Linked DNA regions of Homo sapiens: all the other regions are reported to be linked to region 1. The links are microRNA targets in miRTarBase. Many come from high-throughput screens and were not tested one by one. Region 1 holds a microRNA gene; each other region holds the end of a gene's coding sequence.

Region 1 (5,072 bases):
CTAGTGTGGCCCAAAGCCCCAGATAAGCAAAGACATTCTTCTCAGGAATGACATTCCAAGGGCTTAGAGGTTATCTCCCAATAAGTGGTTAATGGCCAGACCTTTCTTTGGAAGGTGCAGGGTTTGGATTTCCCAGGTCAGCTGAGTGAACTGTTTAATAGGGTAATTTACAATTTTGTAAGAGTAGTTATTAACTAATAGAAACCTGGTAGTGATGAAAATGATTCTTGTCCAATAACAATGCAAATGGATCTTTTATTGTAGAGATATAAATTATTAAATCTGGTAGAAAAGATAAACTCAAAAGTTATATAGTTGTATTGCCTTTCAGAAGGCTAAACTGGTTTGGAGCTAAATGAGCAATTTGATCCAAGCATCCTTTCTTTCAGCTGCTGAAACATTTTACTTTCTCCAATTCTCTTGGTATTTCTCTTACCGTTTTTCTGTTTCCATCATTAATGAGATAATTAAATCACTGGTATGTACTCATTTTGTATTTACATAAAAATCATATTTTTGATTTTTTTTTTTTTTGAGATGGAGCTTCGCGCTTGTTGCCCAGGTTAGAGTGCAATGGCGCAATCTCAGCTCACCACAACCTCTGCCTCCAAGGTTCAAGTAATTCTTCTGCCTCAGCCTTCCCGAGTAGCTGGGATTACAGGCATGCGCCTCCACGCCTGGATAATTTTGTATTTTTAGTAGAAACGGGGTTTCTCCATGTTGGTCAGGCTGGTCTCGAACTCCCAACCTCAGGTGATCTGCCTGCCTTGGCCTCCCAAAGTGCTGGGATTACAGGTGTGAGCCACCATGCCCGGCCTGATTTGTAAAAAATTATACTTTGACAGTTTCTTCTCATTTACACCCTCTGATAGGCAGCAACCTTCTTAATTTTCAGTGCTGATGGAGATTTCTACTATATCATTTTTTTGGGAATCTGAAGTGAGGGAAGCAGGAAGCTAAAACCTAGTACTCCAAAACTCCTGTCAACCTAAAATAATCAAAAGGTTCAGAATCTAATTTAAAGAGAGTTTATTCAAGCTCAAACAGTGAGGACGGACCACCCAGAAACACCAACTCCAAAGGAATGGAGTCAGCATTTTGAAGTAGGGAAGTTAAGATTTCATTTATTTAGACAGAGACAGAGATTTTAGTGGGATTACAACACTATTTACACAAGGTTGGTGCATAGTTACAGCAATTTGATTGGTTATAGGCAGTGTTTCCTTTTGGGAAGGGGACATTTAACACTTTTCACAGAGGGTGTAATAGTCATGCGTTTTTTGTCATCTGGTCTAAGCAAAGTGAGGCAGCAAAGGGGAAGTGAATCTATGACCAGGGCCATTAATGAAGAAGGCAGGAGGCATTTATCTGTGGTGTAGTTGAATTCACTCTAGTCATTGTGCAGAACAAGAAAAATAAGAAAGTGAGTTAATCTATCTGAGAACAGAAGTTGTAACCATGTGTGACTCAGATCATAGTCACATCTCACTCAGGGCTTAATGTGTTCTGGGGGGGGTTCCAATAGCTTTTAAATTTTATTTATCTCCACGCCCTGAAAGTCCCTGTTGCAGACATCTCTTATTTTGCCTGCTTCTTGGGGCAACGTATTTCTGGTGATTGAGGCAGGATTGTAGTTCCTTATGATTCCTTTCTCCTTAGTGCTGCTCTTGTTCCACTCGCTCCTACCCTCTTGCCTTTCCATCCCCCTCCCACTGTCTCTCTCATTCCTCTCTTGCTTCTTCTCTGCACAGGGATGAGTTTATGTCTCAGGCCCTTCCATTCAGTCTGCCCCAGGCCATCACCATTGGTTCCAGCATGATGCATGTTGGCCAGTCAGAGTTCTTCCCAGGATTACTTCCTTGACAGAGCTATTACCAAAGACTCTCACTCTCTTCTGGGTTCCTAATCTGAGTGAAGGAGAGTGTTGCTGAGAGCTATCTTGCCTGCTTTCATGCCTGCTGTCTGGAGACAGCTAGTCCAACGGGGTGAAAACAGTCACAAGTTGTAAACACACTGCTTGAGCCCTAGTTCTAGCTGCTTACAGCCACTTTACCCCTGCACTTCTTTGTTTCCAGTTCTGTGACAAAGTGAATTCACTATTTCTGCTTAAACTAGTCTGAATTGCATTTCTATTACTAGGAACTAATAACATCCTGATGGAAAAATCGCTATGTGGAAGTGGGGCATAACAAGTGAATACTCCTGAAAGTTAGAATTGACTGAGTTAATTTGGGTGAAGCATAATGGGAAACACAGTCCTCACTGGGAGTCTGGATATCTTTTCCACTATTTTATAACAATTCATATTTTTTCCAAATATGAGCAAATATTTTAATTAAACATGAAGAGAAAAAAACAGACTTTTAAAAGTATGCAGAAAAGGATAATTAACATTGGATCCCTTGTAAAAATGGAACCTCAGGGAGTCTAACAAAAATGCAACTTTGGCTAACTTTTGCTTTTTAAAATTCCTTGTTTGACTTCACCTCCCACTGCACAGGAAATGACAGCTTCTGGGAGACGGGTGGAGTTGCAGGAGTCCCCAGGAGCATCAAAGGGTTCAGGGGTTGTATTCTAGCAGTTTCTTTCTTTTCTTTTTTCTTTTTTTTGAGTTGGAGTTTCACTCTTGTTGCCCAAACTGGAGTGCAATGGCGTGATCTCGGCTCACTGCAACCTCCACCTCCTGGGTTCAAGCGATTCTCCTGCCTCAGCCTCCCGATTAGCTGGGATTACAGGCATGTGCCACCATGCCCAGCTATTTGTTTGTATTTTTAGTAGAAACGGGGTTTCACCATGTTAGCCAGGCTGGTCTCGAACCCCTGACCTCAGATGATCCGCCTGCCTCGGCCTCCCAAAGTGTTGGGATTACAAGTGAGCCACCGCAACCGGCTCTAGCAGTTTCTTGATCTTCTCTTTCCTGGTCTCACTTTCATCTCGCACTATCACCAAGGAGTGTGAGTAGCCTATGGAGACCTGCTTTGAAAAGATGCCATTCAGAGTCTTCACCTCTTGGGCTGCAGTGGAAGACTTGGGCTCATGGTCCCTGTATCCCAATTACCTAAAGGTTGGTTATGGCCCTCAGCTGATGGTGTTCTCATTGGCGGCCACAATGTTGCTGCTCTTCCCACAAGCCAGGCTCTGGATTCTGCAGCCGCAGAGGTCCTGCACTGCTTTCAGGTACATGGAAGATTCATGGGAGATATTGGGCTCCCCCAGAAAAAGAGACTACCAACTTCACAGACAGCAAAGGACCAGGTGTAACCAACATGGATCTGGGATGCCCCACACCCAAGGAAGTCAGACTCCAACCTCACCAAGCGGGGACCATCTCATCCTTCTGCTCTGAGTGGCCCAGTCAACCATAGCCACCAAAGCCCCAGGAGAAGACTCATTTCTTGGAGTCCAGAATCAATGTGTGGTTAGCATTACAGGTCACGTCTTACACAACCGTTATTGGCTGGTGGGTTCTTGACCCTTAGTAAATAGAAATAGACCAAGAATCTGAGATGGGCTTGAGCAAGGCAGTTTATTGGAGCTCTCAGCTTGAGCAGAAGGGGAGGTAGCAGCAGGAAGAGACCTGCAGCTAGCTCCCTGACTGCAGGTTAGTTTGGGGTTTCATTTGCTTTGGAGCTCCTCCATGTGACATCATTGCATGTTTGGGGTGGTTTGGCAGTTGCACCTATGCAGTCTCTGGACATGCTTCTTCATGTGATGCATGTCTCATTAGCATCTTAAATCTCCACCCAGGGGTGTGCTTTTTACTACTGAAATGAAGCAAAGGCCAGGTTAGGACAGGCTAGGACATTACTGGGCAAGTGCATTGGGGAGCATCTTTTGCAAAGTGCCCACTGTTAGCCAAGATGCTTGTGCTCAGAATACTCTGTCTCAGATTTGATTGGTCTATTTTGTGAAAGGAAACGTTTGTGGTTGTGTGGCTGCAAGGTTGAATGTAGCTTCAGTCAGCACAGCATGTAAGGGAAATGGGGAGGGGTCCCTGCCTTGCTCTGGGGGTCTCACAACCACCTTTGGTACAGGCAGAATCTACCCATCTTTCATTCTCAGTGAAGGTGGGCCACTCATCGTGGCACCAGCACCAGCTCACAGCCTTAACTATTCACTGTGCCTGGGTCCCAGCTGACCACATTGAGGGCACACGAAGGAACAGAGGTCTCCTTTGTCGCCCATTATACGGAATTCATTTCCACTGGCCATTCTAGTAATTGGCTGCCCGTTGTCCATGATCTGTGCGGTGCTGGGGATGCTCCTGCGTGGTTGCTGAGGCTCAGCTGCCCCATCTTGTTCTCCCCAAAGGCAAACGCAGAGCCCGTTTCCGTCAAGGCCAAGGTGAGGTTCCGCCCACAGGCTGCCTACATACTCACTTCCCGGCAGAGACCCGCAATGAGTCTGGGGGCTTCCATTCTCTTGGTGTCACCAGGTCCCAGCTGCGCCTTCTTATTTTGACCCCAGCTCCGCAGCTTCCATCGTGTCGTGATGAGGATACTGTGCGCAGTGCGCAAACCCGAGACCGCTGTCCGCACCAGGACCCCGCCAGGCACCCACATCTATGGGGCCCCCACAAATTCTGACCGAGATTGAGGTAAGCAGCTTGCTGTTTAGGCACTTCTTTTCCACCCATCGAGTCCTAGTTGGTTGACCCCGAAATCAAAAACTGCCCCTTTGCACTTCGACCCTTGAAGTCTGATGCGCTCCTTGGTGTGCTCAGACTCCGCGACGACCGCGGCCCCGCCGCTCACCTTGTTCACATATGCAGCCAGCCACGCTGTGCCCTTGCCTCCGCCAGGGCCCCATGGAGCTGCCACAGCGCTCGGCCTCTTGGGCTTTCTGCCCGCACGCTGGGACCTCCACGCTTCCCGGGCCGCCTGGGGCCCCTGTGGTTACCGAAGCCCGGTTCTTCCCAGGCTACTGCCCAGTCTTCATCCTGGGCTTGTCTCTGCTGGTTGGAGTTATGAGAAACCAGACAGAAAAAGGAAGAGAAGTAACTGTTAAAAAAAGACGGATAGAAGGGCTTCCCCCTACACCCCTGTCCCTTCCTCTCCTCCCCAGCACCCCCC
Region 2 (5,072 bases), not on the chromosome of region 1:
TGTGTAGTATATATGGTTGTGTATGTGGTTATGATGCAGCTGTATCACTGTGTCCAAGTGGGTCTGGTTATGTGCCTGCAACTTTCCTATTCTTTCTTTTTTTGAGACGGAGTCTTGCTGGAGTGCAGTGACATGATCCCAGCTCACTGCAACCTCTGCCTCCCAGGTTCAAGCAATTCCTGTGCCTCAGCCTCCAGAGTAGCTGGGATTACAGGCATGAGCTAACTTTTGTATTTTTGTATTTTTAATAGAGACAGGGTTTCGCCATGTTGGCCAGGCTGGTCTCAAACTTCTGAGCTAAAGTGATCTGCCCACCTCGGCCTCCCAAAGTGCTGGGATTACAGGCATGAGCCACTTCGCCCAGTCCTATTTGTCTTTCATGCCTTTCTCTGTGTATGTGTGAGTGTGTACTTGCCGCAAAAGGCAGGAATATAACAAGTAGTGCCCTGAAGCCTATGTCCAAAGGAGAGGGCAAGAGCTAGCTGCAGGTACCTGGTTCTCTGTCACTGTCTTAGGTGCAATATAGTTTGAGAGCAGCTCAGCAGCTCTCACAGCCCAGGCCAGGATAAAGCCCTCTCCACCCCAGCCTTACTTCCGGGTTTGGGCCTTGGTCCCTCCTGTTGCTCTCTGTCTTCCCAGAGGCCTGACAAAGTCTGGCTCCCTGACTGCACTGCTCAAACCTTTCCCAGGGGTCTCAGGAAAGCAATCAGAATTCCTCTGACCCTCAGGCTCTGAGGCAAGGTGGACTCTTCCCATGGGCCAACCTAGGGAGAAGTGTAGAAGTTGCTTTGCCTGTGGGCAGGGCTGCTGCCTGTGCTGAACGCCACGAAATGTGATGTTTTGACTCCAGTTAATTCTCTATGAGAAAAGCATCTCTTTTCTTTCCCAGGTGCCTGAAATTCCACCATTGGAAAGCCACCCCGATCTTGCTTTATTATAAACTATCTTCAGAGAGAACGCATTTAGTGGGCTTTCCTCTGAGGTCCTGATGAGGAAAAGGATGAGAGGAAGAAAATATTTGGCATAGAAATGAGGAATTGGGGACAGAATGACCAGGTTGGGTGGGTGGTGACTAGAGGCATCCTTGGCGGTCGCAGTCTTCCTCCTGCCTCAAGGCCTCTGCCAGGGTTGGCTGCAGCAGTCCTCATGCAGGGGGCAGAGAGCTATATGGCCCATGGGCCCCTCCCATGCAAGCAGGCGGGCATGGGGCATTGGGATCCCTGCCCACACTCCAATCCTGGGGGGCTCTTGCTTCCTGGGAGGCCTGTTGTTATGCTGGATATCCCTGACTGTGGGATGGTACACTTGCATTCACCTCACACCTCACCCGCTGAGGCTTCTCTAGGTCCCAAGCATCTCCTCTGGAGCTCTCAGACAGGCCACAGGGTCCATTAAGTTCCTATCTGCACATGGTCACTCTCAGTTGAGACCTTCTGGTCCTGACTCAGGGAACTCCAGCCCTCAGCCTCACCCCAGCCAATCCATAGGCCACTCTCCTGGCCCATATTCCTTTGGGTGTGAGGCACAAAAGGAGACACAGCACCAAGGTCTAGGGAGGGCCAAGGAGGTGTGTTAAGGCTCTGTTCCTGCTTCCCCACAGCCCCAGCCCCATTGTACTGGGCACAGGGCCTGGCTGGGCAGAGATGTCATTGGTACATTTCCCATGGATAGTCTTCCACCTTCCAGCCCATTTCTCCTCCTTCTATGCCCCCTACTCAACTCTTCTCCTTGTGCTCCTGGTCCTTGTAGAATAGGATGGGATATCTCAGCTTCTCCTAACCAGGCAGAGCTCTATCAAGCCCTAGGCAGACATCAGCATTTGCGGGCAGCTGACCTCAGAGAAATGCAGGCCCTGGACCAGGGTCACATAGCTAGTTGGAGACAGACTGTCACCCCAGCTCAGGCCCTTGCCTACTCTCCTGGCAGAGCAGAACAGGCAGCCAGCCTCAGGAGAAATGTGAGGCTGCCAGAGATGTAAGATAAAAGTAGCAGAGAGAAGTTCCACTGGCTGGTCGCTGGGTCGGGGGGTCCATGCAGCCTGGGCCCACCTCCTCCAAGACACTCTATCCAGCTCCCACAGTCATTCTTCCTCCTGTCCCAGCTCCAGCTGGAGCCCTGCCATCAGCCAGCTGCAGCTATGGCAGCCACCCCCTCACCCTCTTGTAGCACTGATAAGCACGCTGGGAAGGGGGATTGTCTTCATTTCATAGATTGGAGGGCTGAGGCCAGGAAATGATTTGAGGACTGAAAGTAAATTAGCCGAGACTGGAAGTCAGGTTTCTAACATTTAATCTCCACTTAGGGAATTGGAGGTCAGAAATGAATAAAATACCATGCCCCAGTAGGCTCCAGTCTAGGGAAGTGGGCAGCAGGCAGAAACCAAGACACAGAAAGCAACGACACATAACAGATATGCTATGATACAAATGGTGCTGCAGGAGCTGCACAGTTCGGAGGCCATTTCTGGCCAGAGGATGGGATGCGTGAAATCCAGGAAGGCTTCCAGGAAGGAGTAGCTGGCACTGGGATGGGCAGGAACAGCAATGTCTCTACTGATGGTTTCATTGGAGAAAGCTGGCAAAGTTGAGAAGTTTGGAGACTAACCGTGACAAAATTTAAACATCAGGTATGTGAAGGCAAGGGGGACCAACTGTGACAAAATGTAAACGTCAAGTGTGTGAAGTCAAAGGGGAACCAGGAAAGTAAAAGAGTGACAATCAGCAGTGCTTTTGGCAAAAAGGCCTCTGGCAGCAGTGTAGAAGAGAAACGCAGAGATCACAGGTATAAGAATGACAGTAGGAGAGGGGAGGAGGGTACATATTTCAGAGGCATCACAGGGGGGTGTACTGATAGGACGGGGGCCTGCTTGTATGAAGGTGAAAGAGGAGGAGGGAGAGTGTCTCTGGGAGATGGGGTGAATGGTAGTGTTCTGAGCAGAGAGAGCAGGGAAATCAGGAGGAGGAGTGGTTCAGGGAAGAGGCAGGGGTTCAGATGCCAAGTTCTGCATTGGCCAAGCTGAGTCAGAGGTGCTGGGAGACTCCCATGTGGGTCTGGGGATAGAAGAAAGCTCTGAGTTCAGCAATGATCATGGAAACCAAGGGAGGGTTGACAGCACCCTGAGGTGGGGGAGACATGGGCACTGAGGAGGGATCTTGAATGATTCCTACATTAAAGACATCCTGACTGGGCACAGTGGCTCATGCCTGTAATCCCAGAACTTTGGGAGGCCGAGGAGGCCGGCCAAAATGGTGAAACGCCGTCTCTACTAAAAATACAGAAACTAGCCGGGTGTGGTGGTGCGCACCTATAATCCCAGCTACTCAGAAGCCTGAGGCAGGAGAATTACTTGAACCCGGGAGGCAGAGGTTGTAGTGAGCCAAGATCACACCACTGCACTGCAGCCTGGGCAACAGAGTGAGACTCTGTCTCAAAAAAAAAAAAAGGTATCATTTCTCTAGACCTGTGCTATCCAATAGGGCAGCCACCTGCCACACACGGCAATTAAGCACTTGGAATGTGGCTAGTCTGAACTGGGAAGAACTGCAAAAGTACAGTACATACCAGACTTTGAAGACAGGATGAAAAAGGGAAGGTAAAAACTATTACGTTAAAATTTTTAATAGTGATCACGTTGAAATGCCAATATTTTGGATATATTGGATTAAGTAAAGTATATTATAAAAATGAATTGTTTCATTTTACTTTTTAAAAATGTGTTTACCAGGAAACTAAATTAGCTGGGCAAGGTGGTAGGTGCCTGTAATCCCAGCTACTGGGGAGGCTGAGGCAGGAGAATTGCTTAAACCCAGGAGGCAGAGGTTGCAGTGAGCAGAGATCGCACCGCTGCACTGCAGCCTCGGCGACAGAGCAAGACTCTGTCTCAAAACAAACAAACAAAACCAAAAAACCCCACTACTCATGTAGCTTGCTTCATATTTATGTTGGATGACACTGTTCTAGAACCTGAATTCCATAGGATGTGGGATAAGTGTTGCTGAAAAAACTAAAGCAAGCTGGGAGAGTGGAGGCTGATGTTTGCAAGATGCCATGTTACTCGTGTCTGGGGGGAACCAGTCTCTGTACTCAGGACTTCTCAAGGCAGGCATCATCTCCCAAACCAAGTTGCCCACAGATACTCCCCCTTCCTCTGGACTTCCTGTGAGAGGAGGGTTCGGCAGAACCCACTCTGAGAGATGGTATTTTAAAGAGAATGATAAGCCTGTCAGATGACTAGGCGGGGAGAGAGCGAGGACAGGCAGAACAGAGGTAGGGGGTGCCACAGGACCAGAGGGAGGGGTGGCCAGTGGGGTCTTGGGGCTGCAGAGGGGTGAGAACAGGTGAGAGATGCAATAGAACTCCTCTGGCCAGGTTTGCAGCTGGCTTGGCCAAGCTCACTCTGTAGGATGCAGGCGGTAGCGGAAGCGCACATCGTGGCTGGGCTGCATGGTGCCAAAACCCCAGCGCTGCGGGTCAACATGGGGTAGTGGTGTGTCAGGGTCCACCAACTCTAAGTCAAAGTGTGTGACCATAAGCAGGATAAAGAGCTTCACCTCACTGAGTGCAAAGAACCTCCCAGGGCAGATGGAAACGCCCGAACCCCAGGGCATGGTGTAGTGGTGGATCTTCTTGCCTGTCTTGAAGAAGTCCACTTTCCGGCTGCCATTAGGGTTGAGGAAGCGATCGTACTTGAAGACGGTGGGCTCAGGGTGGATGTCAGGGTCCATGTGCACTGAGAGGTAGGGAAAGAGGGCCAGGATGTCTCCATGGCGGAACAGATACTCCTGCCCACTGGACATCTTCAGGGTATAGTCTTCATGAACCAACCTGAGGAGGGTGGGTGCAGCCCTCAGCCGCAGCGTCTCCTCCACCACGCTGTCTAGAACTGGGGTGTGTTGCAGGGCACCGAGTTTGAAGGCAAAGGACTGCTTGGTCTCCAGCCTGGCCTCACCCAGGACCTGGGTAGCTTCCTCCCTCACAGCCCGAATAGCTTCTGGGTGCTTCAGGAGGTACAAGAGGGCCCAGAAAGAGGTAGGCCCCGTGTTCCCCTGGGAGGCCCAGAGCATCATGAAGTT
Region 3 (5,072 bases), not on the chromosome of region 1:
CCCTCCCATGCACAGTTCACAATAAGGTTTGTGTTCCTATGAAAATCTAATGCTGCTACTGATCTGACAGGAGGCAGAGCTCAGGCGATAATGTGAATGACAGGGAGCAGATGTAAATACAGATGAAGCTTCACTCCACTGCTCACCTCCTGCTATACAGCCCAGTTCTAACAGGCCACAGACTGGTACTGGTCCATGGCCCTGGGGTTGGGGACCCCTGACCTATGAGAATTCATAGGCCTTAAGTTAGAATTCAAGCCCTGAAGGGAAAGGAGTACCTGGTCACATGTAGATAAGAAAAATGCCTTTTAAGATGATCATAAACCACAAAAGCTTTGTGTAAATCATGGGTAGGCAGCTAGTGATGTCCTCTGAGGAAGTAGGAAGAGCATGTGGTCACTACTTACACTATCTGACCCCGTGCCTTCTGATTGACAGGAGGAACCCATCACTTCCCTGGGGAAGGAGCTCCTTCTCTATCCCTGTGGTCAGCAGGACCAGCTGCCTGACTACCTGGAGCTGTTTGAGTGACAGCCTCCATCAGGGTCATCCTACAGCCTCCAAGCGGGCTTTCCCCTGGACAAATGCCACTGCAACATTTATGTGTGAAGCCAAAATCACCCTGCAGCAGAGCCAATACTGATCAACTGAAAGTAAAGTATCCATGGAGTCCTCATTGACACCTCTTTTCTGCACAAATACTGGAATTCAATGTCAAGAGAAAATGACCTCTGCTCAAAAGGGAGAAGAGTCTCAATTTCAGCAAGTACCTGTCATGAAGGGTATGACCTTAATGATGTACATAAAATAAAACAAATGAAGAAATGGAAAACTTTTAGAAATTAAGGTGTACTTGAAAACGAATATCTATCATATGACCCCTGCACTCCCTCTGTATCATCTCAGGAGGTTTCAGGGGCCTGTTGACATGAAGTTTCGAAGTTTCATGTTGGCTTTGGAATGGTAGCAAAAGCCTTTCCTGGCTGAGATGATGCTTAAAACACACCTCACTTATTGTACATGTTGGAACCAGGACATGAGAGACATAGAAAAACAGAAGTCATGAATGTAAATTGAATGAGAGGCTTAACATGCATGAAAATACAGATGGACCTGCAGGAAAGTGAGCAAACATCGCTGAGTTTGTTTTCTTGTTCGGGAGAATGGGGCCGGGGCTGGCCTGGCCTCCCCTGGATATACTCTATAGTGCACCAAAAGGATAAAGCATCTGTACATGTATTTTTTTATTTTTTATCAGAAGTGCTTAGACAAGAACAGAATAAGCAGGCTGTTTGGATGCTACTTGTGGTTGAATTGTGTTCCCCCAAAATATATGGTGAAGTCTTAACCCCCATCCCCGTGAATGGGACCTTGTTTGGAAATAGGGTCTTTGCAGATATAGTCAAGATGAGGTCACATTGGATTAGGGTGGGCCCCAAATCCAATGACTGGCATCCTTAGGAGAAGAGAGAGTTTTGGTAATAGACACAAATGCAGTGGGAAGAAGACCAGGGGACAAGAGGCAAGTTGGAGTGATGCAGCCGGAAGGGAAGGGACACCAAGGATCTCCGGCCACCAGCAGAAGCCAGCAGAGAGGCATGGGACAGGTTCCCCACAAGCCTTAGAAGGAAGCATGGCCCTGACTTCAGAATTCCAGACTCCAGAACTGGAAGAATAAATGTCTGTTGTTTTAAGCTGCTTAGTTCATGCTGAGTTCATGCTGACTTGTTACTATAGCCCCAGAAAGCTAATACAGTCGTTTATGTAATTACATAACCTGACACACAAGATCGACCCATTCACTGCTGCCCAGTCCACCATTTTCATAATGAAGTAGAAATGGGAGGTAAGAAAAACATTCCAGCCAGTTCTGTTTAGCCCTGGCACACATATTTGTCCCGTCAGGAATCTTATGCCCTCCTGGAACCCCCGCCCACCTCAGTCCAGTCCCAGTCAGGCGAACGGCCTCTGGACAGGGACTGAGGTGGCTCTGAGCCACTGGAGATCATTTTTCTTGGAGGATGGAGATTGGCTAGTACCTCTGGCCTAACTGTGTAGGTCAATACTCTTTTACATTGCCTTCTAATAAAAGCAGAATGATACAGCAGTGTTGTTACAAGCTTGTTGGTTGCGTACAGCACTCATTGACTATAAAATGTAGCCAGAGAAGGGGATGGTTGGCATGTGTGTTCTAATGAGAAAGATGATGGTGATTATTATTTTTAGAGACAGAGTCTTGTTCTGACACCCTGGCTGGCATGCAGTAGTGCGATCACAGCTCACTTCAGCCTCAAGCGATCCTCCTGCCTCAAACCCCCAAAGTGCTAGGATTATAGATGTGAGATACTATGCCAGGTAGAGATAGCTTTTAAACATAGATCATTGTTTAACTCTTTCTTGAAATGTTCCATGTGGTTTATATTGTTAAACTATTGTAAGGATCCATCTCTTGGCTTTTGTTCCTATGATTCAACAGTCATGGCATTATTGAGAAACTTCTCAACTCTTCCTACCATTTTCTGTATAATCTTGGACAGGACAGTTTGTCTCTGAGCCTCAGTTTTTGCTTCTGAACAAAAAAAAATATGATTCAACTGGGTGATCTTTGTTATTTTCATCCAATTCTGAAATTTTAAGGTTCTAGTGCTTCTCACTGGAATGAATGGAAAGTACCCACTTGTCACCACTAATAATTAGGAAGATGTAAGATTCCAGTACTGGCCAGGTGCAGTTGCTCATGCCTGCAATCCCATCAATTTGGGAGGCCAAAGTGGGTGGATCATGAGTTCAGGAGTTCAAGACCAGCCTGGCCAACATGGTGAAACCCCGTCTCTACTCAAAATACAAAAATTAGCCGGGGACGGTGGCATGCACCTGTAATCTCAGCTACTCTGGAGGCTGAAGCAGGAGAATTGCTTGAACCTGGGAGGCGAAAGTTGCAGTGAGCCGAGATCACACCACTGTACTCCAGTCTGGCTACAAAGCAAGACTACGTGCTGGGGGAAAAAAAAATCCAATACCCCCCTGTGCCTACAGTTATCTTGTAGGAAATAATTGTGGCCATATCCAGATATAACTACACAAAGCAACATCCTATTAAAGGAAGATTTAGAAAACAGGAAGTCACCCAACTGAATTCACCCAATATTACACAGGGGAGCAGATGTGGGTTCCGGACTAGTTTATCCTGTTGGTTGCTGATTGATAGAGGAATACACTGTCCAGTGTTGGATGATATGATGGCACGAATGACACTTGAAATTCTTAGGGAAGGAGAATGGTTTACAGATTTCAGAAACTGAATTCAACCGAATGGAATTCAGGAGGCCTGAATGGTCATCCGAGCAGTGCTGTGGTCTCTGTCCTGCCTACATTTACCCTGAGTTACGGTCTGAGGTGAAGATGTCCAAACTCTGACCCTGGTCTCCTCCTCCTGTTGCCTCTGCAAGCCCAGCTCCTTGACCTGCCTGCGCAAGGTTTCTGGGTCTAGGAATGCTGCTTTCATGTTACTGTCCTGGTTCTCAAGCCTAGGGGCTCTGGTCTGCAGACCCTGACTCACTGGGACTGTGGCCAAATACTCCTGCCCATCTAGATTCTTCTCTCCCACAATTCTGGAATCTCCCGCCCACAGTCATGTAAGATTTTCTGGCTGCCACCGTATTGCCAGATGCTCACAGACCTATCAGGTCACTTGCAAGGACCCTGCTTCTGGCCTCCTGCCCTACCCTGCTGCAGTAGGATGCACAAGGAAGGTCGCTTGGCCCTGAGTGTCACCAGCAGTGCTAGTCAGTCTGAAAAAGTGTTTTCTGGCTGGGCACGGTGGCTCATGCCTGTAATCCCAGCATTTTGGGAGGCCAAGGCAAGTGGATCACGAGGTCAGGAGATCGGGACCATCCTGGCCAACATGGTGAAACCCCGTCTCTACTAAAAAAAAAAAAAAAAAAAAAATACAAAAATTAGCTGGGCTTGGTGGCACATGCCTTGTAATTCCAGCTACTCAGGAGGCTGAGGCAGGAGATAGCTTGGGAGTCAGAGGTTGCAGTGAGTCGGAGGTTGCAGTGAGCCGGAGGTTGCAGTGAGCCGAGACCACTGCACTCCAGCCTGGTGACAGAGCAAAAGTCCGTCTAAAAAAAAAAAAGGTGCTTTCTGGCCCAAAGCTTACCCTAAAAATGGAGAAAACACAGGGCAAGTTAGGAAAAAAAGGATCAGAGAAAGAAAAAAGTAGATGGGCAATGGTCAGTCAGGTCACCAAAAATACCTCCGGGACATTTCCACCCAAAATTGCCTATCTGAGCTAATGCTTTGGAATTAAGCATCCTTTGCTAATATGACATGAAATCTGCTTTTAGATTAAAAAAAGAAAAATTCATGGCTTAAAGTTTTGCAACTGCCACCTTTTGTAAAGGCAGTTTTCTTAATGCACTGGAGTTCTAACATGTTTATGGCCCACACATACATATTTTGGGGCTCCTGCTATTTGGTGAGAGAAGACACAAATGCATGGGCTATGCATGGATATGTTTCCATGGGGCCTCTTTGCTTTCATATTTATCCAGAACGTGGTACATGCTTTCCTTTCAGGCTGCAATTCACAGGGTTTGTTTTGTTTTGTTTTAGAACATACGTTTTCAACGACTGTATCTTTAAATAATCTGTTTGAATTTAGCTTTTCTCTTCCTTGGGAATAGCTATAAATGTTGGATTTTTCTTTGCTTTTCATTTGGTATTCTCACCCCCATTGTTTTCATCTCTCCCTTCTTTTCTGTTGTATTTTGGGAGAGCTCTTGCATCTGTCCTTTTCCCATCAGTGATTAAATTTTCAGCAATGTTAATTCTGCACTTCACTGCCTCCAGGTGGATTTTAGTACCACTTTTACATGTCTAGCTACTTCCCATCCTACCTTCTCTCCCTATGCAAAGATCTTTAGGCTTCCCACTGCTTCCCCAGACTGACAATTGTCAGGAAGCTTAAATGATAAAAGTACCCTGTTTTAATTGTGGTAAAAACACATTATTTGATAATCAGGCTGCTCAGTATAGTAGAGAGCAGGCCCAGCAGGTTTGGGGTGCGG
Region 4 (5,072 bases), not on the chromosome of region 1:
GATCGGCCACCAGCGAATTCACACAGGAGAGTGTGTCCCTTCTGCTGCTGCAGCTGCGGTGACAGTGTCAATGAGAAGACCTCCCTCTCCCAGCGCGTCCTTCCGCACCCAGGGGAGAAGACCTGCAGGGGTGGGAGCGTGGAGAGCGTCAGCCTCGCACCCAGCTCAGTCGCCCCGGACAGCACCTCTGGGCTCCGGCCCTGTGGGAGCCCCGGGTCCTTCCTTCAACATCTGCCCCCATCCACACTCCTGCCCCGACCTCCCTTCCTTTATCCTGGCCCCCCACTCAGTCTCCAGCCTCTGGTTCCATCCGGCCTTCCCGCAGTGCCTGCAGTGCCTCTGGGAGGCCTGGAAGTTGCCCAGGTTCCGCCAGCCACCCAGCCGGCAGCTCAGCAGGAGGGGGCGATGGGGCCCAGAAGCTGTGCGAGCGCGGGACGGGACTCGCGGGAGGCGGTTCAGGCCCCAGGCTACCCTGAGCCAGCCCGGAAGGCCTCGCAGCACAGAGCGGCCGGACCGCTCGGCGAGGCCAGGGCCAGGCTTCAGCGACAGTGCCGAGCTCCTCCACCGCCCTCGAACCCACACTGGAGAGGAGCCCTACCAGTGTTTCCGGTGTGGAAGGCCTCCAGCCGGAGGTCCAACCTGGCCCGACACTGAAGAACCAGCGTGCTGCAGCCCTGGGTGGAATTGTTGCAGCCGCCGGTGGACTGTGGATCTGAGATGCAGTCCCCTCCCTCCACACAGACCCGCTCAGGACGGCTTTTCTGTATGGCAGATCTTTCTCAGAAGTGCTGGGGGCTATTTTGTTTGTTTTTTTTCCCCTGAATTCTCGCTCCTTTCCCTTATACATTAAGGGATTTAGGCAGGTGCGGCTGCGGGCGGTGACTCACACCTGTAATCCCAGCGCTTTAAGAGACCGAGGTGGGAGGATCGCGTGAGCCCGAAGAATTTGAGACTAGCCTGGGCAGCCTAGCGAGACCGCATCTCTGTGAAATAAAAATAAAACGAGCTGGTGTGGTGGCGCTGGCCTGTAGTCCCAGCTACTCAGGAGGGTGAGGCGGAAGGATCGCTTGAGTTGGAGAGTTCAAGGCTGCAGTGAACTATGATCAGGCCACTGCACCCCAGCGTGAGAGACAGAGTGAGACCCTGTCTCTCTAAAATAACTAAAATAACAAAAGGATTTAGGTAGGTAGTAGGCAAAGGTATATTATCGAAGTAACAATAATATACAAGGTATATTATCGAAGTAACAATAATATACAAGGTATATTCTTGGTGTGGACAGGAATAATATTGTGTTATCTTAATATTAGTGATTATTTCTCTCTCCTTTTTTTTTTTTCTTGAGACGGAATCGTGCTCTTTTGCCTAGGCTGCAGTGCAGTGGCATGATCTCTGCTCACTGCAACCTCCATCTCCCGGGTTCAAGCGATTCTTCTACCTCAGCCTCCTGAGTAGCTGGGATTACAGGCGCCCACCACCACGCCCAGCTAATTTTTGTATTTTTAGTAGAGAGGGGGTTTGACCATGCTGGCCAGGCTGGTCTCGAACTCCTGACCTCAGGTGATCCGCCCACCTCAGCCTCCCAAAGTGGTGGGATTATAGGCATGAGCCACCGCACCCAGCCTCTCTTGTGCTTTTTAGATAAGTATTTTTAAAAGTGTTTGTTAGTTGTCGGCTGGGCGTGGTGGCTCACGCCTGTAATCCCAGCACTTTGGGAGGCAGAGGAGGGCGGATCACGAGGTCAGGAGATCGAGACCAGCCTGGCTAACACGGTGAAACCCCGTCTCTACTAAAAAAAATACAAAAAAATTAGCCGGGCATGGTGGCGGGCTCCTGTAGTCCCAGCCAAGCTGGAGGCTGAGGCGGGAGAATGGCGAATGGCGTGAACCCGGGAGGCGGAGCTTGCAGTGAGCCGAGATCGCGCCACTGCACTCCAGCCTGGGCGACAGCGAGACTCCGAATCAAAAAAAAAAAAAAAAAAAAAGTGTTTGTTGGTTTGTTGGTTGTCTTAATGATGTGCTATTAGAGTGAGGAAGAAAAGTTACCCTATGAGAATTTAAACTGCATGAAAGTCTGTGGTAGCATTACTGGTTCAGTTCCAAGCTTGCTACCTCAGTCCTTGATGCCTCTTTCTCCCAATCCAAGTAGTATCAGGCACTGCCGTCTACTTGTTGTACCTCAGAAGAGTTTTTCGACAGCACCCCGTGCCCTCTGTGGCCTGTGCTCTCTCACAGGTGCAAGTCCTGTCATCATGAGCCTGGACTGTTGCAGAAGACTCCTAGCCAATCTCCCCTGCTTCCCGCCTCTGCATTCTGGTTCAGCATCCATAGAACCTACCAGTTATTATAGATTCCTCCCTCAGACTCCAGACTCCAACACTAAATCTGATGTCAGTCTCCTGCCTGAAAGGATCTCCTGCCTGCCACTCCCACCCCTCCACCCCCTCCGCTGACCCCAGCAGGGCCTACAGAACAGGGTTCAAATGCTTTAGCGTGGCATGCATGCTTCTCCATTGGGCTTCGCCTGACCTCTGTGCCTTTGCTGGCCAGGGCCTCCTGCACCTCTGTGTCTTTGCACTTGATTTATTTCTTTCCACTGCCCAAAATGACCTTTCCCCTTTTCTGTCTCCCAGACTTGCCCTACTCATTCATATGAGCCCCACTTCCACTTAGAGACTGCCCCACCTCTCGTGTCACACCTGACGTGGTGAGTGCTCCAGTGGCATTAAGAACATAGGGCATGTCTGTCTGGTAACCTATCTCCCCAGCAGACTGAGCTCCACGAGAGCAGAGACCCTGGTGCAGGGCCTGGCTCACAGTGGGTGCTCAATTAATATTACTTATGTGAAGGAACCACTTCCAGCTGCTCAAGTATTCTATGCTAAAACTTGGGTTTCTTTCATCCTTGTTGTCCTCCCAAGATACAATGTGTACATAATTGGAAAGTTAGCCAAGGTGACTATGAAGGTGACCCCACCCAATCAATCTATGTCTTCCTGGTTACTGTGCCTGTCATTCGATGATTCCACGGTTATGTCTATAGTGATAACAGAAAAAAGCAACTGAAAACAATATTATTTACTCGGGTCTCGTGCATCTCCTCCACACATTTGTAGAAATGAGATTACCACAAATTGCCAAGATGGTTACATCAAATTTTCAGCAGCATCAGTCATAGGACAAAAAGGCCTTTGAGTGTATTTTTAATAATCAGCATTTACTGGTGGCAAAATACTGGTTTAGAAAATATCTGAGATTATGGTCAGGCACGGTAGCTCACGCTGGTAATCCCAACATTTTGGGAGGCTGAGGCAGGTGGATCACCTGAAGTCAGGAGTTCAAGACCAGTCTGGCCATAATTTCAGATGGTGAGATTATAGTGAAACCCCATCTCTACTAAAAATGCAAAAATTAGCTGGGCGTGATGGCACACATCTACAATTCCAGCTACTCAGGAGGCTGAGGCTGCAGTGAGCTGAGATCGCACCACTGCACTCTAGCCTGGGCAACACAGTGAGACTCCATCTAAAAAAAAATCTGAGATTAATAGGTTGCCATTTTAGGCGCTCTTTATAGACCAGCTGGCCTAGTGGTCCTGGTTCTGTAATATGTGAAGTAAAGGTCTCGCAGGGGAGCACCAGTTTCAAACTCTGTCCTAGTTTGCAGCCTTGGCTGGAGTGACCCCAGTCATGAGGCAAACTGAGCACAAGTGTGCAAGTGTCATGGATTCAGCCAGAACATCAGTGTTCCCAGCATCAGACACAGATTCGGGAGAAATCAAGTCACAGTGTAGAGATGTATTGTGATGTGTCACTACACTATTATGAAATGGAAGAAAATAAAATTACAAGCCTCAACCTTTAAACATTTAGCAACTTGGGCTGTATCTCAATGTGTAATTTATTTGTCTCACTTCATTTTCACAAACATTAAATCCCTTCATATCAAGTGCCTATGAGGTTTAATTCATTAAAGGCATGCATACTCCAGAATGTTTATTAAATACATTTCTATCATTTCTACAAAAGAAGCCCCAAAACTTCAATAAAATATGGATCACAGTACAGGGGAACAGAAATCAGAAATGTGCTGGTAAAAGTTTAGAGATGTGGTATAGCTTCATAAAAAATGTTTAACAATAAATTAGGACTTAAAGCCCCATTTCTAACTGGCTTTTACGAATAGGGGATTTGTTATTTCACATAACTGAAAAGTCTTAAGAGTTCAGCTCTTTCTCAATTCCGGCACATCTTGACTCAGGGATTCACATAATATTAACAAGGCTAGATCTCCCATTTTTCAGGTCTGCTCTGAAAATGGCTTCAATATTGGCTTCAATTGAAGGCCCCAGCCTGAGGCTCCAGCAGCTCCAAGTCCAGTTGAAGTATAATTGTGTTTCAACAGTCCAAGAGACAGGCCTGAAAATTGGAACTCATGGACTTGTGCCCCTCCCTACAACAATCATCCCAGCCTGGGCAACACAGTGAGACCCATCTCTACAAAAAATTAAAAAATTAGCTGAGCACAGTGGTTTGTGCCTATAATCCCAGCTACTTGGTAGGCTGACATAGGAGGAATGCTTGAGCCCAGGAGTTCGAGGCTGCAGTGAGCTATGAACACACCACTGCACTCCAGCCTGGGTGACAGAGCCAGACTCTGTCTCAAAACAAAATACAAAAAACAATCACTACGGCCAGGTGGGGTGGCTCACGCCTGTAATCCCAGCACTTTGGGAGGCCGAGGCAGGCAGATCACTTAAGGCCAGAAGTTCGAGACCAGCCTGGCCAACATGGTGAAACCCCATCTCTACTAAAAATACAAAAAAGTAGCCAAGCATGGTGGTGTGCACCTGTAATCCCAGCTACTCAGGAGGCTGAGGCTGAATAATCACTTGAACATGGGAGACAGGGGTTGCAGTGTGCCAAGACTGCACCACTGCACTCCAGCTTGGGGGACAGAGTGAGACTCTGTCTCAAAAAAAAAAAATCACTATGACCTGGAGAATAGAATGCTCTGATTGGGTAGGCCTGGATCATGTGGCCCTTCTTGGAGCTAGAGGAGGGAGTCAACCCC
Region 5 (5,072 bases), not on the chromosome of region 1:
CACCCCCTCTGAGCGCCTAGGGACTTTCTCCCTCTGCTCCACTGACAACAGCCTAAGAGGCTTTTCCGTTTATTTCATCGACTTGTTAATGATTTTCAGATCTTCAGTTACTCAGGCCAGCCCCTGAAGCAATGCTGGACTTGGAAACTTGTGACCCTGGCTGGCTCCAGTCCACTGCTGGTAAAGCCTTCCCTAGGTTAATAGCTCTGTGTAAGGGGCTCTGGGCTGTCTGGGCAAGAGGTCACTAGGGCAACACCTGACCTTTGTTTAGGACCCCAAGTCAAAGCCTCGACCTCCCCACCCCATCCTGTCCTTTCCACAGGCATACCATGCCCCTCCTCCAGCAAACCTATTATTCCTCCATTCAACAGCCTCTGTCCCTTCATCCAGAAAGGACAACCTGGTAAACAGGAAAGGGTTTATCTCAACCTTGCAGATACCCCGCAAAAACCGTGACGACCTAAGAGTAAGGAACTCAGCTTTGGGCTTCCAGTTCAAGATGGTGGCCTGAGCACATGTGTCTGTCTTATTTCCCTCTGGGGTTCACTGTAAAAAGAAGCTACAGTTCAGAAGCCACAGGTTGGTGGGAATGCCCTGGGAAGAGCTGTCCTGCTCAATAGGCCAGCACCTCCGGACTCACAGGAAAGACCCTGGACAGCTGTGGGAAGGGCTATGGCTTTTCTGTATGTCAATCAAATGAAAAATAAAACCTGGAGCTTTAGCTCATCTGACCCCTGTGGAAGGGATGAGCTGCTAAATTAGGCAGCTGAGATATTTTGGTACCAAATTACCATGTGTACTTTTTTTTGGTATTTATTATTTTCTATTCTTTCATAAGCTATAAGCTTTAACTACAACCACGAGAAGGTAAGAAGAGCAGATGCCAGGGGCATGCCAGAAAAATGGAAGACTCTACTAATAGCACACTTAAGGTAACAGACTTTTATTACATCTTCTTTTGGAACTTAGAAGACAATATTAGCCTCCTACACTTTTGAGAATTAAAATTTAGCCCACCATCATTTGGCCTTGGTAGTGACATCACTTGGGTACAGTGATGACAGACAGCCTAAGGGGCTGGACCTCAGAAGACTAAAGGTCTAGTCCTGGTCCTTCCACTAATGGGCTATGGTGACCCTGAGCACATTATTCCACTTCTAGGTGATTCAGTTTCCTCATGACTCATAACAGGAAATCATTGGTCTCAACCTTCCTCCAAGGACTAGTGTGTGGAGCTAGAACATGCACCAAGGAAGACTGGGGAACATCAGAGAGAGATAGGACTCAGTACCGTTGACTCAGGTAAAGAGGGAGACAGCAAGAACAGAGTAGAAAGGCAGCATAAAACTGGTGGAACCAAACACAGACTAAGTAAAAAAAAAAAAAAGGTAAGCTTCCCAACGACACCATGTCCCAGGAAAGAAGATCCAGTAAGAAGCAGAGGCCTTTAGCAAGGATGCCAAGACAATTCCGTGGAGAAAGGATATTTTTCTCAATAATCAGCAGTGGGACAAGTGGAGATCCACAAGCAAAAGAATGAAGCTGGACCCCTACATCACATCATATATAAAAATATACTCGAAATGGATCAAAGACCATTGTGAGAACTAAAAGTATAGTTCTTAGAAGAAAACACAGGCATTAATCTTCTTGACCTTGGATTAGGCAATGGTTTTCTAGATATGGCACCAAAAGCACAAGTGACAATAGAAAAAAAATACGTATCTTGGAAATCATCAAAGTTAAAAAGTTTTGTGTCTCAAAGGACACCAACAAGAAACTGAAAACAATCCACAGAAGGGGAGAACATTTTTACCAGTCATATACCTGATAAAAGACTGGCGTCTAGAATATACAAATAGCTCACCCAACTCAATAATAAAAAGAAGGCTCATCCCTGGTAGTCTAGTGGTTAGGAAAACAGAAAACTTAAAAAAAAAAAGACAACTCAATTAAAAATAGGCAAAGGACCTGGATAGACCTTTCTCCAAAGAAATACGCATGGCCCGTAAGCACAGGAAAAGACACTCAGCATCAGTTGCCATCAGGGGAATGCAAATCAAAACCACAAGATAGCATTTCATACTCATTAGGATGCTAAAAGCAAAAAGACAGATAATAGCAAGTGTTGATGAGGATGTAGACAAATTGAAACCTGGATACATTGCTGGTGGGAATGTAAAATGGTACAGCTGCTATAGAAAACAGTCTGGCAGTTTCTCAAAAAGTTAAAACACGGAGTTACTGTAAGACCTAGCAATTCCACTCCTATGTATATTGCTAAAAGAAATGAAAACATATGTCCACACAAAATCTTGTAGAAATATGTTCATAGCAGCATCATTCAGAGTAGCCAAAAAGTAAAAACACACAAATGTCCATCAACTGATGAATCAATAAACAAATGTGGTCTATCTATACAATGAAGTATTATTCAGCAATACAAAAGAATGAAGTACTGATACATCCTCAACTTGGACGGCCCTAGAAAACATTCAGTGGAAGAAGCCAGTCACAAAAGAGATATCACATGATTCCAGATATATGAAATGTCCAGAGTAGGTTAATCTTACATAGAAAGTAGATTCATGGCTGCCTTGGACTGCAGGAGTTAGGAAAGCAGGAGTGACAGACCAAGGGTACGGGGTTTTACTGGGGGTGATGAAAATGTACCAACGTTGACTGTAATTCTGTGAATTGATGGTGGTTCTGTGAATACAATTGGACACTAGCAATGGGTAAACTGAATGGCATGTGAATGACATCTCAATAAAGCTGTTAGTTAACCCACTCCCCGCTTCTCCTCTAAAGAAGGAAGAGGAATCAGGAGCCTGTCCTCACTCTGTTCTGTAGGAATGCCACGGCTATTACCCAACATAATGACTAACAGAGCCCCTTTTATTCCGAGATGTCCTGGTTTATATGATAAATTTATATCGCTACCCTATCACTATGTGCTACCATGCAGGTGACTTTGCCCCTCTGAGCCTTGGTTTCCTCATCTATAAAACAAGTTCTCCCCATTGTAGACCCTGTTTTATTCTGGTAGTCCTTCAGTCTAGCACTTCATTCCACAGAAGCTCCATTTAGAAGCTATGACATCCCATTCAGGTGGTCAGAGGGTTCCCCATGAACCTAAATTAACCAAGAGCTGAAGCCCTGGGCCAGTAGAGATCACTGGATCCCAGGAACCAGAGGCAAGACAAAGACGAATTTCTGAGTCTACCACAGTTACTGACACTCAAATTTCCCGATAGTTAGGCCATTAAGAAAGATGATGCACCCATTCTGATGCAGGCAAAATATCCTAAACATAGCCTCTACAAACAAAGATAAACATGTAAGTGAGGGGCACTCAGAGAAAACACATCGCTCCTGTGGCAAGTTTAGCAGCGGTTCAACAAGGTCTTCTCTAACTTTCTATAAGTCCATCCAAGAGGGCCTGGTATTGTGGTGGTCAAGGTCATCTGATGACACCTAGGAATGGAATACTCATTCCTAATCCTCCTTACCCGTGATTGCCAGGAAATAAAATAGTCTTTTTCTATTACCATCCCCCTAACCTCCCCACAAAGGGCCTCAGAACTAATGTCTCTGAGAAAGGCCGTGCACATACATTGTGGCATCTACCATGCCAATGCGCCAGTGCAGAGACAGGAGCACATCTTTGGGTTCCGCAGCAGCAGATCCTTAGAAACAACGTAGAGAAGAAAGAGGTAGAAGGCACAGAATAGCCCCACTCCCATCAATTCATCCAAGAACAGGAAAGGCGGATGCTCACCAGGGTCACTGAGAAGGGAAGCAAACCTGAAACAGGAGAATGAGGGCAAACTGCTCCCATCAAGTCGGCAGTGCTGGCCATGCAGCCAACTCCCAGAGGAGGAGGTAAAGGTACCAGCTTCCAGGGTGAAGCAGAGCTTTCTCTGGAGGCAGGAGAGTGGTCAGAAGGGACCAATACAGGCAGCACCAAGATACCCAATCAGCTTCCAACTAAGGGATGAGGGATTTCAGAGCAGACGTCTCCACTGTTTGCCCTTTTAGAACGTCAGGGTTGGACCAATAGAAAAGAACAAGGAACCATTCAAAATCTGGAGGCCAAGAGGAAGGGAGAAAGGAGCCACTGGCTTTCTGTACACCGTACTTGGTGTCCACAGGCTTCTGCTGGTTGGTGCTCTGTAGCTTTCACAGACTGGGCAGGGTCCCTCCTGGCCTCAGCTTGCCTGGTGAGGCCACAGCTTACAGTGGGGCAATGTCTACATCCACGGGGATCCACAGGGCTGGGAGCTGGAGACAGGTATGAGGTCCACTGCTGCTCAGAGTCCACATTTCAGGATGATGTGGTAGCCATCATTGCTCTCAGCTGCAAGAGAGAAACACTGGGTGTATTTCACAGGAAAAAAGGTGCAGTGCCACAGTATTGGGGAGTCCCAAAAGGCACGCTGTTAGGGTATCAGCAAAGACCACCAAAATAGGGCTGCATACAGCAAAGCGTGCTGGCAGAAGCAGGGATCTCACATGCCCTGACATCTGCCTCGTTTAGTGTCTTTTTAACAATAGGTCTTTCTACCATAGCCCCAGGCCCAAGGATGAAAACCTACGTTCCAAGGAGGATTTGGACAACTGTGGTTCTCAGGGATATTATGGCCCCCAAGGCCCCAAAGACACTTGGTGGTGGCTGGGCGTGGTGGCTCACGCCTGTAATCCCAGCACTTTGGGAGGCCAAGGCAGGCGGATCTCGAGGTCAGGAGATCAAGACCATCCTGGCTAACACAGTGAAACCCCGTCTCTACTAAAAAAATACAAAAAAATTAGCCGGGCCTGGTGGCGGGCGCCTGTAGTCCCAGCTACTCGGGAGGCTGAGGCAGGAGAATGGTGTGAACCCGGGAGGCGGAGCTTGCAGTGAGCTGAGATCGCGCCATTGCCCTCCAGCCTGGGTGACAGAGCAAGACTCCATCAAAAAAAAAAAAAAAAAGACACTCGGTGGCTAGATCCACGGGACAAGGTGGGAAGTGGCCTCATCATGGTCCAGGGTCTATGAGTCGGTCAGAGGGCTTTTGTTCTGACATATCCTA
Region 6 (5,072 bases), not on the chromosome of region 1:
ACCCCATTTCTACTAAAAATACAAAATTTAGCTGGGCGTGGTGGTGCACACCTGTAGTCCCAGCTACTTGGGAGGCTGAGGTATGAGAATCACTTGAACTCAGGAGGCTGCAGTGAGCCCAGATCACGCCACTGCACTCCAGTCTTGGAGGCAGAGCAAGACCCTGTTCAAAAAAAAAAAAAAAAAAAGTAGACTCTGGAACTAGCCAGGAAATAACTTAGGGGGTATTGCAATAATCTAGGTGAGAGATGAGGGTGGCTTGGACCATGGTGTAATGGCAAATAGTCAAATGTTAGACTTTTTTCTTTTTTTGTTTGAGACAGGGTCTCATTCCATCACCCAGGCTAGAGTTCAGTGGTGTAATCACTGCTCACTGCAGCCTCAACCTCCCGGGCTCAAGTGATACTCCCTCTTCAGCCTCCCAAATAGCTGGGATAACAAGCATGCTCAGCTAATTTTTTTTTTTTTTTAATCTTCACAGAGACTGGGGTCTTGTTATGTTGCTCAGGCTGGTCCTGAACTCCTGGACGCAAGAGATCCTCCTGCCTTGGCCACCCAAAGCGCTGGGATTACACGTGTGAGCCACCACACCTGACCCTAACATATTGTAAATAGAAATGGCTCATTTGATGTAGAGTGGGAGAGAAAGAGAACAATCAAGGACGACGCTAAGGTTTTTAGTCTAAATAACTGAAGGAATGGAATTTCCATTTATTGAGATGAAAGGATCACAGGTGAAGGAGGTTTGGGGAAGAAGCCTAGGCGTTTGGTTTGCACTTTTTTTTTTTTTTTTTTGAGACGGAGTTTCACTCTTTTTCCCCAGGCTGGAGTGCAATGGCATGATCTCGGCTCACCGCAACCTCCGCCTCCCGGGTTCAAGTGATTCTCCTTCCTCAGCCTCCCGAGTAGCTGGGACTACAGGCATGTGCCACCACGCCCGGCTAAGTTTCTGTTTTTAGTAGAGACGGGGTTTCTCCATGTTGGTTGGGCTAGTCTCGAACTCCCGACCTCAGGTGAGCCGCCCGCCTCGGCCTCCCAAAGTGCTGGGATTACAGGCACGAGACACCGCGCCCGGCCTTGGTTTGCACATTTTAAGTTTGTGATCTGTATTAGCTTTTTCCAAGTGTAGATGATATGTGGGCAATAATACATAAGCATCTGTAACTCAGGGGGGAGTTCTGGAGCTGGAGATGAAAATCTGGGATGTATTAATGTATTACCTGATATTTAAAGCCATGAAACTGGAAATGACCAAGGTAGTGGGTACAGATAGAGAAGAGGTTGGAAAATTGAGCCTTGGGAACAGTCCAACATTTAGAGATCCAGAAGGTGAGGAACAGCAAAGAAGTCTGAGAATAAGCTGCTGATGAAGTAGAAGGAATATCAGAAGGACGTAGTGTCCTAGAAGGCAAGCGAAGAGTGTTTCTAATGGAAGAGTGAGCATCGGTATCAGCTTCCACGAAGTAATGGTCAATAGATTTAGCAATGTGATGATCATTCGGCAACCTTAACAAGGGCAGCTTTGATGGGGGCGGTGGACACCTGATTAGCAAGGGTCCAAAGGAGAGTGGGAAGATGGAATTGGATAACTTGCTCTGTTTGCTGTAGAAGGGAGTAGAGAAATTGAGTGGTAGCTGGACAGGCGTGTGGGGTCAAGATAGCTTTTGTTGTCTTGCTTCTAAATTGGGGGAAATTAGTGTCTGTAGGCTGAAGAGAAAAATCAAGTAGAGAGGGATTTTTTTTTTTTTGAGATGGAGTTTTGCTATTGTTGCCCAGGCTGGAGTGCAATGGCGCGACCTTCGTCTCCCGGATTCAAGAGCTTCTGCTGCCTCAGCCTCCCGAGTAGCTGGGATTACAGGCGTGCGTCAGCCACCACGCCCGGCTAATTTTGTATTTTTAGTAGAGATTGGGGTTTCACTGGTCTCGGACTCCTGACCTCAAGTGATCCACCCGTCAAGCCTCCCAAAGTGTTGAGATTACAGGCGTGAGCCACTACGCCCGGCTGAGAGGGAAATTTTGATGGTATAGGAAAAAGCAGTGTCTTTGAGATGGCCAGAGGGATGGGAAATCTAGTAAAAGTAGGGGTTGGCTTTAGGTGGAAGCATTCTTCTACAATAATGAAGGAAAAGAAGAGTACGTGGTCACCGACTCAATTAGGTAGGTAGGTAGGTAGGTGCGATGTGAATGTTGATGGGGAACTCCGGAATGGTTTATTTTCTCAGTGAATCAGGAAGTAAAAGCTGAGAAGGGATTCGTAGTTTGAGGTGAGGGTAGGAATGAAACAGTCTCATGGGGCAGTATGAGAGTGAATGAATTGGAGGAAAGTAACGATTGCTGAGTAGCACTAAGGAGCCACCCGAGTGTGGTGGCGTTAGGAATTGAAATCCGCAGTAAAAAAGTTTTTGCAGGTCGATAGGACTATGAGAATCGCAAGAGGGCGCTCGCGGGCTGGTCCCTGACGGCCGAGTCTCTGAGATTCTCAGAATAACGCGGGAGATTCTCCAAGGAAAGAACCAGAAAACAAACTGCTTTTTCCTTCTCCAGAGACCGAGATACCTAAATACCAAAACTAGTGACGCTGTGAGCAGGATTCGAACCTGCGCGGGGAGACCCCATTGGATTTCGAGTCCAACGCCTTAACCACTCGGCCATCACAGCCGCGTGCGCTGTCGGCCCTGTGCAACTATAGCTGCCTATCAACACGCCCGCCTCCAGCCGGCTCCGCCCGGCTCCGCCCGGCTCCACCCGCGCCGCCTAGAGACGTCTGCGCTCGTGCGCCTCTGCTCGGTGGCGCAGACCATGCCTTCCCTCCAGCAGACGTCAGCAGCCCCATTGGAGCGGCAGCCTTCCTATTCTCCCTCTCCTCCCTGAGCATAGGATGGAAACAAAACGGGTCCAAATCCGAGCCCTGTCTTCCATACTCTTGAGGACAGACCCTGAGATGCCTACTTCAGGCTACTTCATGAAACCGAAGTGAGAATCTGTAGTTTCCAATACACACTAAAAGTGCAGGGAAACGGAGGTCCAAAGACGGATTGGCATGTAAGAAGAATCTTAGGGAGAGTCTAGAAGAAATGTTTCTTAGAAAGGCCCTTTGAAAGTGGAGAAGTGTACTTGCAGCAATAATATATCACTCCCCGCTAACTCAGGCACCGCTGGGATTCGAACCCAGGATCTCCTGTTTACTAGACAGGCGCTTTAACCAGCTAAGCCACGGCGCCGGCGTAAAACAGGTGTTCCTCAAGATAAATCAACTCTTAGTGGGTGACAGTAAGTGAAAATCAGCAAACTGCCTGCAGTGGTTCCTCAGTGACTCATCCCTTCCTAAGGTGCCTCTTCCCTTTCAGGTTCTGAGCCAAAGGGTTAATGCTTTGCTTCTCCATTCTTCCACACCTTTGGGGCCAACTCAACCATGAGTGAGCACATGACTCCATGTGTCCCTTAGCTACCTAGACTGACCTGCTGAAGGGCCCTCTCTGTGTGGTGACCAAGAAGCCAAGGAAGGCCGGGCGCGGTGGCTCACGCCTGTAATCCCAGCACTTTGGGAGGCCAAGGCGGGCAGATCACCTAAGGTCAGGAGTCCGCGACCAGCCTGACCAAAAATGGTGAAACCCCATCGCTACTAAAAATACAAAATTAGCCGGGCGCGGTGGTGGGCACCTATAATCCCAGCTACTCGGGAGGCTGAGGCAGGAGAATCGCTTGAACCCGGGAGGCAGACGTTGCAGCGAGCCGAGATTGCACCATTGCACTCCAGCTGGGTGACAGAGCGAAATTCCGTCTCAAATAAAAAAAAGGAAGCCAAGGAAGACAAACACCCTCGAATACCTCAGGGCACCACGGAGTTAAGCAGGGTTCCTCTGCCTTGGCCACCCGTGACCCGGGCTGGAGCTTACCCAAGCCCTTGGCCACACGCACCTCTCAGCTCTCCTTCCCAGGGCAAACCCAGCTGAGGCCATGCTAGAGGGGACAGCAGAGTCTGAGCTGGACGTGGACGTAGCGGGCTCAGCAGGGCCCTCACCTGGACAGGATGGGGGAAAAGAGGAATGGGGGTCGTCAGGAGATGGCCCTGTACACCCTCACTACAACCTTCCCAAAAGCAGGGCCACATCTCCCCTTGACATGCTCCCCTCACCCCAACCCCAAACTTCATTCCACAAAGTCCTGGGCGTTTTTATCTTTTTGTATTAAAAAAGTAGTAACAGACACAAATATCAAAAACACAAATGCCATCGGCAGAGGGTACAGCTGAGAACGCCTGGGTCCCACCTGAGGGGCAGCACCAGGGACTCCATGGTCCACCAACCTCCCCCACTCCAGAGCAGCTAGGGGCTGGAACCCCCGGGTCCTGCTTGGGCCTCAGGCTCTCCTCCCATCTGGGGAGGAGGTGGGAGAGAGAGCTGTCTCCCCGCAATAAATAAGTGCAGCCCCAACCCTCAAGAGTCAGATTCAGGCTCAGCTGGAATATGGAGAGGCCACTTCAGCAGCTTGTCAGCAACTTTGTCCAGGGGAGGGAAGGATTCCTCTCCAAAGGTGGGAGGTGACACTCCTCTGGGCTGGGCTGCGGAGTTCTGCTCTCTGCTCCCTAAGAGGCCAGAGGCAGCCCCTGGATCCTAGGCTGGTGATGGGGGTCCGGCCCCCTATGGTGGGAGAAGCTGGGGCAGTTTCCCACTGGTTGGTCTAGCCACATCTGAGTTCTGAGAATTGGGACATAGGAGAAGAAAGCCTCTCATGGACTCCTGGAGATGGTCCCAGAATGGAGTCTAGCTGGTGCAGTTTCCTGCTGTAGGTAAGGCTGGACTGGATGAGCTCCTGCCTTCTTCCTCCTCCTCCATAGCCAAGTCCTGAGAGCTTGAAGCCTTGGCCCCGCCTTGGGCCTCCTCGCAGCCCTCTCCCTCACCACTGCCGCCACCGCTGCTGCCCTGCTCGCCTCCACCCTCTTCCATGGGCTCCAGCCCCAGTCCATCCAGCTCTGAGAAGAGTGGGTCATCAGGGTGACCAGGATCTTGGGTGCTGCTCCCACAGTCCACACAGGCCTTGGTGAGAGAAATGGACATGAGAGAGTCAGACAG

Evidence for each region. Region 1 holds the annotated microRNA hsa-miR-4468 (AGAGCAGAAGGAUGAGAU, at 3,327-3,344, opposite strand). A microRNA usually pairs through its seed, bases 2 to 8, with sites in the 3' UTR of a target mRNA and lowers its output. Matches are read on the target gene's strand: a 7mer-m8 pairs with bases 2 to 8, a 7mer-A1 pairs with bases 2 to 7 and ends in A, and an 8mer does both.
Region 2: the mRNA of CYP8B1 is a reported target of hsa-miR-4468. Seed matches in the 3' UTR shown: 8mer at 3,826-3,833 and 8mer at 2,931-2,938.
Region 3: miRTarBase lists SH2D4A as a target of hsa-miR-4468. Seed matches in the 3' UTR shown: 8mer at 731-738.
Region 4: miRTarBase lists ZNF843 as a target of hsa-miR-4468. The part of its 3' UTR that is shown has no 7-base or 8-base seed match.
Region 5: miRTarBase lists TFCP2L1 as a target of hsa-miR-4468. Seed matches in the 3' UTR shown: 7mer-m8 at 4,011-4,017 and 7mer-m8 at 875-881.
Region 6: the mRNA of PER1 is a reported target of hsa-miR-4468. The part of its 3' UTR that is shown has no 7-base or 8-base seed match.

The regions. Positions count from the first base shown.
Region 1 is chr7:138,122,075-138,127,146 of GRCh38, reverse strand. It overlaps MIR4468 (microRNA 4468), which reads right to left and starts at 3,389; the gene lies at 3,326-3,389. It also overlaps the pseudogene RCC2P3.
Region 2 is chr3:42,869,920-42,874,991 of GRCh38, forward strand. It overlaps CYP8B1 (cytochrome P450 family 8 subfamily B member 1), which reads right to left. Exons shown (of 1, transcript NM_004391.3): 1 at 2,273-5,072. The coding sequence ends at 4,392. Among named protein-coding and RNA genes, the nearest start is that of CYP8B1, 3.4 kb to the right of the region's middle.
Region 3 is chr8:19,394,112-19,399,183 of GRCh38, forward strand. It overlaps SH2D4A (SH2 domain containing 4A), which reads left to right. Exons shown (of 10, transcript NM_022071.4): 10 at 439-2,107. The coding sequence ends at 531. Among named protein-coding and RNA genes, the nearest start is that of SH2D4A, 83 kb to the left of the region's middle.
Region 4 is chr16:31,431,385-31,436,456 of GRCh38, reverse strand. ZNF843 (zinc finger protein 843) reads left to right here. Exons shown (of 2, transcript NM_001136509.3): 2 at 1-1,023. The coding sequence ends at 654. Among named protein-coding and RNA genes, the nearest start is that of COX6A2, 5.6 kb to the right of the region's middle. RefSeq lists an enhancer at 476-976.
Region 5 is chr2:121,220,028-121,225,099 of GRCh38, forward strand. It overlaps TFCP2L1 (transcription factor CP2 like 1), which reads right to left. Exons shown (of 15, transcript NM_014553.3): 15 at 1-4,360. The coding sequence ends at 4,314. Among named protein-coding and RNA genes, the nearest start is that of TFCP2L1, 63 kb to the right of the region's middle.
Region 6 is chr17:8,136,305-8,141,376 of GRCh38, forward strand. PER1 (period circadian regulator 1) reads right to left here. Exons shown (of 23, transcript NM_002616.3): 23 at 4,168-5,036. The coding sequence ends at 4,764. TRS-CGA1-1 (tRNA-Ser (anticodon CGA) 1-1) reads right to left here and starts at 2,658; the gene lies at 2,577-2,658. TRT-AGT5-1 (tRNA-Thr (anticodon AGT) 5-1) reads right to left here and starts at 3,221; the gene lies at 3,148-3,221. RefSeq lists silencers at 2,528-2,587, 2,608-2,777, 3,138-3,187 and an enhancer at 3,585-4,263.